Linked DNA regions of Homo sapiens: region 1 is linked to region 2. Evidence: fine-mapped expression QTL. A gene starts in region 2. The other region holds a variant in brackets. All regions are shown on one strand. Distances are between the middles of the regions.

Evidence for each region. PIP is the estimated chance that this variant, and not a neighbour inherited with it, causes the effect. A credible set is the group of variants that fine-mapping cannot tell apart.
Region 1: its variant is the best candidate, but not a certain one, in a credible set for the expression of FBXO22 in whole blood (INTERVAL, PIP 0.65).

Annotation. Positions count from the first base shown.
Region 1 is chr15:75,856,102-75,860,500 of GRCh38, reverse strand. UBE2Q2 (ubiquitin conjugating enzyme E2 Q2) reads right to left here. Exons shown (of 13, transcript NM_173469.4): 3 at 519-623. Among named protein-coding and RNA genes, the nearest start is that of UBE2Q2, 15 kb to the right of the region's middle. The variant C/T (reference allele first, on the strand shown) is at 1,877.
Region 2 is chr15:75,901,515-75,905,913 of GRCh38, reverse strand. FBXO22 (F-box protein 22) reads right to left here and starts at 2,036. Exons shown (of 7, transcript NM_147188.3): 1 at 1,811-2,036; 2 at 1,285-1,423. The coding sequence starts at 1,950. RefSeq lists a silencer at 1,645-1,714 and enhancers at 1,765-1,814, 1,835-1,934, 1,551-2,208, 2,295-2,384, 2,209-2,868.

The sequences.
Region 1 (4,399 bases), 45 kb after region 2:
TAAGTGGGTGGTATAAGAGCTAAATTATCATGTATTATAGTAAAAAAAAAATAAATAGGTAATAAATATTTAGATGCCTAAATAGGTAAATCCAGAATGAAATTAGTGATGGTGGTGAGCTAGTGGAAATTTCTGTTGCTTGCAGGAGATAACATTTGGTTTAGTCTTTAAAAAGCACAGACAGACTTAAGGAGATGACATTGCTAGGTGAAGGTAATTGAATAACCAAAGACAAACTATGAAAGAAGCAAGAGCATTTACGGAAACCAGCAATATTAACAAAAAGGTGGTGGTAGAGAGAAGGGCAATTGTTTGCCTGTATAGTAAATACCAGCAGCTCCAAAGAATGAAAAGTTTATTTTTAGTACCTAAAACAGAACAAACAAAACAATTCAATAGGAACAAAAATGAAACTAACTTCTAAATAAGTTGAACAATAAAAAGAAAAATCATCCTAGTTTGACTTTTGCTTGAGACAATTTATTTAGCTCTTGAACACTAGAGAATTTTTACTTTACCTGACCCGTGGGTAGTGGTTGATCTAGCATCTCAACATCCAGGTGCTTAGGAAGGTTATATAAACTGCAGAGTTCACATATCAACCACTTCAATTGCTGACGAAGCTACAAAACACATTTCAGTAAATAAGCATTATGTTAAAGAGCCCTTAGAAGACATCAATAATGTTATGACTACTGTAATCAATCCAGTAGGAAATGAAAAAGTTTGTTACTGCTCAACTGCAGCTTACAGATTTAAAAAATAGTCTTTAAAATATTTTCAGGACCCTCTAGTGTAAGAAAGTTACTATGGCTTGGGGTATAATCACTACAACTGATACCTAGCAGAATGACAACAATAAGGGCAGAGGAAGGAAGTTCCAGACATTGTCCAATTTCTCACTGCTAACCCGTTTTCTGAGAAACTTACAACTTCAGACAAGAGAACATTAATGCATTAATGAGGCTACCAAAAAAATAAAAACAAAAAATAACAGAAAAAATAACCCAGACACACACAGGCAGTGTTGTTACAGATGGATTACAAAATTATATATTCCAGTCATATTCATTTAAAAATACAGAAGCAAATATCTAGTAGACAGAGCCTGGCAATCTAGATGACCTTGGATATCCTATCTAATTCCCTGAGTATGAGTCTACCCATCTGTAAAACAAAGAAATGAAAACTTTCCCAGAATGGTAAAGATTAAATGAAACCTGTAACACTTGATATTTAGTAGGCTCTTAAGTGTCTGTATAAAAAATAACAATAATTCACTAGGAAAACTGCAAAGAATAACTGTAAATTTCCATGTTTAAGTCCAGATTGTTTTCTAAGCATATTTGCTTTCAACAAGTAAGCAAGGTAAATCATGTGCACAAGTATGGTGTTCATTGTTTAAAATGTTTTTCAATGTATAACGTGACTCAAATGGGATCTAATAAGGCAACTCACTTAACTCGGTCAGGAACAGTTTCCTAGGTGGCTCTGACCAAGAAAAGAGATGAAGAGAAAGAAGCAGGTTTACAAAGGACAAAGAAAGAAGACATAGGATTAGAATGGGTTAACGAAGCAAAGAATAAGCTTTCCCAAAGTGGACAACGGAGCAAATGAAAATGAGGAAGGTTGAACGGTAAATTACGATCCAACAAAAATCTTCATGCTTAAACGGAAACCAAGCTCCAGTGTGGATTTGATATCCACCCAATACACTCTATTGCGTGCTAAGTGCATAATGAAGATGAGGCAGAGCAATCCGGACACAGACCTAGACACTCTGGCCTCTGGCACGGAAGGGGCTCCAGGAGTGCTGGGGAGAGAGGCAGCAGGGTAGTGGAGTCATACCAAGCAACAAGAAAGACAGGGTAGTACA[C/T]TCTCCACGAATTTCAATTTTCCTCCCTTCCCCCACACACCAAAAAAGCATTTGAGGGATGGGAGGAAGAAACTGAGATCACAGGGAAAATAGTAAGAGACATTCAGAAGGACAGGTCTTAGAAAATTACTAGTTTGCGGGGGGCGGGGGTCAGAGAACAGTAGTATATAAAAGAACGCTAAGACAGTTCCCAGGTTTGGGTATGGGTGACTAGTTTGATTATTTCATTTTGTCCCACTCACAATCACAAGAATTACTGAGAAAAAACACGGGGCTGATAGAGTGCTAGGAGGTGGGTAAACGCAAATTTAAACGTCATCATTTTGAATATCCATGGCACTGTAAGTGAGATTCCCTAACATATATGATTTACAGACAGATATATGGGTTTGAAACTCTGGAGATGAATACAGATTTAGGAATCCCTAGAACAGAGATCATGACTAAAGTAATGGGAGTAAAATATTACTCAGAGAAAGCACAGAATGAGAAGAGAAGAAGTAGGCCAAGGGAGAAGAGATCAGAGGAGACCAAGGCAGGGTGATAAGATCAAAACAAGACAGTAATCAGATGGAAGTTCCATTAGATTATCAGTTCCCAGAGGACAGGGACATGCCTTGTCTTTTATACTCAATTATCACAGAGCCTGACACAGAAGCCAATTTTTCTTAATTGTGTTCTACTATTGACAGTTTCCTGTACCCACCAGGAAAGAAAAAAGTATAAACAAGCATATAGATTTTTTTTACATTATATACTAAAGGGGCCAATTATACACAATATTTTATGCCTTGCTTTTTCATTTAATATATCTTAGAAATCTGCACATGCTCTTATGGAAAAAATGGCTGCATTTTTTTTTTTTTTGCCTACAACAGAATATTCTATTATAAAACTATACACTATGATTTTTATTTAACCAACTCTTTATTGGTGGACATTAAGAATGCAGGAATGTTTCAACAAGGGAACAATCAACAGTATCAAAATACTGCAGAGGGGTCAATTTGGGGACTAAGAGAGGAGCCGCTAGTTTTGGCAACTAGGAGATAAATTTTAGTGCAATGATGAAGGCAGAATCCAGATTATAATAACTTCAGCGAAAAAAGGTGAAGACATGTAGCTTATTCTCTCAAGAAACTAGGTTTTGATAAACTGGCAGAGGCTGCAAGAGTGGGAGGTGAGTTGTTTTCTCCTTCATGTAAATATATTCACTTTTAAAAAACTAGGCCCAATTTTATATCCTATTTCATTTAACCTTATGAACATGTTTATGTAATATTTTAGATACTGAAAAATAACTCATTTTTGCTATTACAAAACCGTTATCTTTAGATCTTCAGAAGCAACTTCCTAAAAGGAGGTAGCAGTAACAGAACTATGTCTACCACTCTTTCCCATCAACCCCCTTGCTGGGGATGTAAACATGTGTCCATCTAGCTTTTAATTTTTACCTCTTACCTTCATGGCTCTCCATACAAACCTTAACATACGTACGTACGTGTGCATGTGTGTGTACAGAGAGAGAGAGAAAGAGGGTCTTGCTATGTTGCCAAAGCTAATCTCAAACTCCTGGGCTCAAGCAATCCTCCCACCTCAGCCTCCCAAAGTGCTGGGATTACAGGCATGAACCACTGTGCCAAGCCTCAGCCTTAACTCTTAAAATATCTTTTTTTTTTTTTTGGAGACAGAGTCTTGCTCTGTCGCCCAGGCTAGAGTACGGTGGCACAATCTCGGCTCACTGCAACCTGCCTCCCAGGTTGAAGCACTTCTCCTGCCTCAGCCTCCAAGTAGCTGGGATCACAGGTACATGCCACCACACCCGGCTAAATTTTGTATTTTTAGTAGAGATGGGGTTTCGCCATGTTGGCCAGGCTGGTCTTGAACTCCCCACCTCAACTGATCCGCCTGCCTGGGCCTCCTAAAGTTCTGGGATTACAGGCGTGAGCCATCATGCCCAGCCTTCTGTTCTTAAGAATAGATGTGTTTAAACCAACTATACAACTATAACTTATTTTGACAAAAATCAGAGTTGAGACTCAAACTTCCTCAAATAGTTTTCCTAAGACTGTTTACAGAATAATCTAGCCTTTCCTTATTAAGTTAGAATACCACCTTTACCTTATACTAAATTCTCATTTGCATGACTCTGGTTCTAAATTTCCATTGCCTTTATCTGTCTGGAACAGAGTTAGTATACAACATTTTATTGAACATCTGGTTGAACAAGTCTATTCTTTATTTTTTTATCATTTACCCTTTTAAACAAATGTTAGAGTCATTTTGTCAACTTCCAAAAATAAATCTGCTGGGATTTGTACTGAAATTCATTATATATATATATATATATATATACACACACACACACACACACACACGTATATACACATATACACATACATGTATAAACACACACATATATATATACATTTTTTTTTGAGACGGGGTCTCACTCCGTCACCTAGGCTAGAGTTCAGAGGCACAATCTAGGCTTACTGCAATCTCCACCTCCCAAGCTCAAGC
Region 2 (4,399 bases):
ACTTGGCAAGCATCGCCTTAATTGAGTAATCAAAGGTAATACCACCAATAACAAGACGAATGGAAATCACATGCCACCTAAAGTATGCCGTGAAAAAAGCACAGCATCACTTCTGTGATTATTTCCTGCCAAAGACACAATTGATGGATGTTCTACAAAATAGCCTGTGATTTTCCTAAGTGTCAAGATTGGGAAAAATCAAGCAAAGCTTGAGAAACTGTTCCAGATCAAAGGAGATTAAAGAAACAGGACTTACTCAGAGCAAATTGCAATTGGGAACAGATCTTTTTGCCATGAAGAACCTTACTGGGACAACTGGCAAAATCTGAACCGAGTCTGAGGATAAAATGGTAGAAATGTATCAGTGATAATTTCCTGATTGTGACGGCTGCACCGTAGTTATGTCTGTCTGTAAGCCGTACTAAAGTAAACAGAGTGACAGAGCAGCAGGTTGGCACTTTACTGTCAAATGGTTCCCTTCCACTCCCCAGAGATGGTACACCCTGCAGCCCCTCTGACTCCACAGTTCGAGTCTTCATCTCTCCTGGTGTTGGCTCCCCTTTTGAAGTTGGGGGCCAGAGAAGCAAAAGAGTACAGGATCAGAAGTTGAAATATTTGGCTTTAAGTTTTGGTTCTTGGCTTTCTAGGTGTGCTCACTGAGCAAGACACACCCAGTTGTCTTCCCGGTAAAACAGACAACAAAAAGTTGCTTCAAGGGAAGCAGGTGAAGGGAAGGTTCTGCACAGCGTTGTTGTTAATAGTGAAAATGTGGATACTTAAAAGGCCCAACATGCCGGGCGCGGTGGCTCACGCCTGTAATCCCAGCACTTTGGGAGGCCGAGGCGGGCGGATCACGAGGTCAGGAGATCGAGACCATTCTGGCTAACACGGTGAAACCCCATCTCTACTAAAAATACAAAAAATTAGCTGGGCATGGTGGCGGGCGCCTGTAGTCCCAGCTACTCGGGAGGCTGAGGCAGGAGAATGGCGTGAACCCGGGAGGCGGAGCTTGCGGTGAGCCGAGATCGCGCCACTGCACTCCAGCCTGGGCCACAGAGCGAGACTACGTCTCAAAAAAAAAAAAAAAGGCCCAACATTTGATGAACGGTCAAATAAATCATGACACATCCTTACCGTGTAGTCACTAAAACTGATGTTTACAAAATCTTTTCACGGAACGAGATGTTCCTTTAATTAACAAAACTGGGATTTAAAAAAAAATAGTTCTCAAAGACTGAACCACCAACCTGCAAATGACTGTGCATGACACCCCTTGCTACTTGCCTCAAGCTCCTCTGCTACCACGCGAACCAAGCAATGCCCCTCCAGGTGGCCGGCCTCCGCCAGGCCTGCGGAGATCCAGGTTACGCTCCGATGGGTCCGCAATACTCTGCGCACACACTCCCTCCATAAGCGGCACACGCTGAGGACGCAAACGCACAAAGGATTGCGAACGGACGTTCATTTTCGTCTCTCCCACAGCTCACAAACCCCCACCCGCTGGCGCAGCAGCAGGAGATCCCTGCGGGATCCAAAGTCCCCGGGGTAGGTAGGTGTCAGTCAGGGCGCTAGTTCGGAAGAAGAGCCAGATATGGAGAAAACCTTAAGGGGAACTTCGCCCCTCAGGGAAGTCCCCCCGGGGCACCACGGCTGGGAGATACCTCGCGGGTAGGGGGTCACCTCAGGTAGGGCGAGCGAGCCGGGGACGGCCCTGGTGGGTCCCAAGGGTCTCTCCCCCCACCCCGCCAGCCTGGGACATGCCCACGGCGTGTCCCCAGGCAAGCTTCCCGCCTCCGCCTCCTCTCCTCACCAGGCCACCCGCAGCAACGCCTTGGCGGGCAGGAAGGTGAGCACACGCTCCACCACCTCCGCCAGGTTACTCAACACGAAGGTGCTCCGCGGGTCTACGGAGGAGCCGCGGCACTCGCCGCAGCAGCCTACCGGCTCCATTCCTCACCAGCCCGCCGGAACCAGTCCTACGGCGGCTCGGAGGAACCCGATTACGCCAGCATAGGGTTGCCCGGCCGGCGCGCACTGAGCAGGCGTCCGCGCCACTTCCGGCTGGACGGGGAAGGTGGGCGTGGCAACGCCGGTGCGTTCCCTCGTCTGGAGCCCGTACTCCGAGGTGTACTCCGTTCCGTAATACGCTCGGAACTGTTTTCTTCATTTTTGAGATTGGGTCTAATGCTGTGGCCAGGCGGGAGTGGAGTGGCGCGGCCTCTGCTCACTGCAGCTTCTACCTCCCAGGCTCAAGCGATCCTCCCGCCTCAGCCTCCCTCGTAGCTTTAACTACAAGCTCCCGCCACCACGCCCAGCTAATTTTTGTATTTTTTGTAGAGACGGGTTTCCAGGCTGGTCTGAAACTCCAGGGCTCAAGCGATACTCCCGCCTGGGCCTCCCAAGGTGCTGGAATTACAGACATAAGCCACCGCTCCTGGCAACTTTCTAGGAGGCCTCCTGCAGTGAAAATAAATTCTTCTTCTGTGCCTGTGCCTCTCACTGCCCTGGCACCGCCATATTTCTGAGTTTACATCTTTCTCTAATTCACAAATTCCTTGCAGGGACTAGGTAGTACTTATTGCTCTTCGTAGTCCCAATGCCTGTTTAAATAGCATAAGCTCGATTTATAAACGGACGTTTGCTTTTAAAAAATTGTCTTAGTGTGTGAAAATCACTGCCTTTATTCCTTGTAAACTTAGTTAACTCGTTGTAATCTTCAGGTTTAAAGTTTCGAATGAGTAAAATGGCATAAATAGCACCTGCCATTCTAAGGTAGCTGAGTGAGATGATTGCTGTGAAGCACGCCCCAAGCTGTGCACCAGTTCCCCGCCAGGGACATCAGATTCACCTGGAAACTACTAAGTTTTAGCACATTCCCGGTCCTTATCCCAGACCTCCTGAATCAGACACTGGGGGTGAGGCCCAGCAATCTGTTTTAACACACTTTATGACGATTCTGATGCATGCTCAAACTGAGAACCACCAAGAAATGGAAGCACAGCAGACACAGGTTTGTCCCCACCTAACATCCATTCCTCCCGCCAATTCCTTCCTAAGGGAGCCCTGATTTGATCGCCAGATCTTGGGCAGAAACTTGGTCTAAATTAGCAGTTCTCATTATGGCCTCAGGACCCTTTACACCCTAAAATATTGACACGACCAATAGTTTATGTGTGTTATGACTATCAATATTTACCATATTAAAAATTAAATCAGAACATCTTAATGCTTAACTCTTTTTAAAAAACCGATGTTATACATTAACGAAATATTTTTATGGAAAACAATTATTTCCCAAATCCTCCTTCCCCCACTGGTGGATAGTATGACATTGTCAGTGGCATAAGCCTCCTGAGTAGCTGTGGTTTTTTTCTTTTTTTTGGTAGACCCAGGGTCTATGTTGCCCAGGCTGGTCTCAAACTCCTGGCCTCAAGACATCCCTCTGCCTCCGCCTCCCAAAGCGTTGAGATTACAGGTATGAGCCACCAAGCCCAGCCAGTTTTTTCCCATAGTCTATTTATAGGCGCAGCTGCTTAAGGAAGCCAGATGGCCCAGATGTCACCAGAGCTTCCTGACCCCTTGCGGAATACCAGAGGAAGATAAACAGGCGCCCTCCAGTTACCTTTAGATAATTAACATAATGCTAAAATCCTCTCCCTAAAGAAAGCTCACTGGCATCTTACGAACATGGATGTATGAAGCAGCATGTTCAGGGACTATGCCTGCTTGTCTGGAACTCCAGTCTGTGCATGCCGTTCATACCTCCCCCGCCCCTCAGCTAACTCTTTAAACTCCCCAGCCTCCCATCCCTCTGGGAGAAGGTGCCTTTAGAGTATGAGCTCCCCTTCTCCATTCTCTGGCTACTGAATGAAACCTGACTGCCTTTCAAAGTGGGCGTTCTTTCTTTGTGGCTGATATAAAGTAGGGAAAGAGGACAGTTTACCAGTGACGGCATCACTACATTTTTGCAAATATTTAATTTGTCTTAATAGAAGACAAATAGATTCTCATATTTGCTTCTGAATTCAATCTGTTGCAAAATCACATCATGTAGCCTCTGGAAAATTCCATTGTACACATGGAAGAATGAGTGAAAATGGCAAATGTTTTAATATTATGAAAATAGTCTTTTAAAACCTCTTGAAATGGTCTCAGGGGTCTCCAGTGTTCCCCAAATAAGGCTTTGAGAACCATTTGTGCAAACTAATCACGATGGTTTCATTCTTTTCACCACCATTGGTTTAGGGGTGGGCACAGGTCCCTGATGTAGCCAAGGAAAGGCAAGAGGCAGTGTGCTTGATGGGATGGTGCTTTTAGAGATTTCCTCACCTCCTAAGGAGACACTAGAAGACAGGGCCATTTATCTACCTCTGGATCAAGTAAGGGGGCTGCACATAAC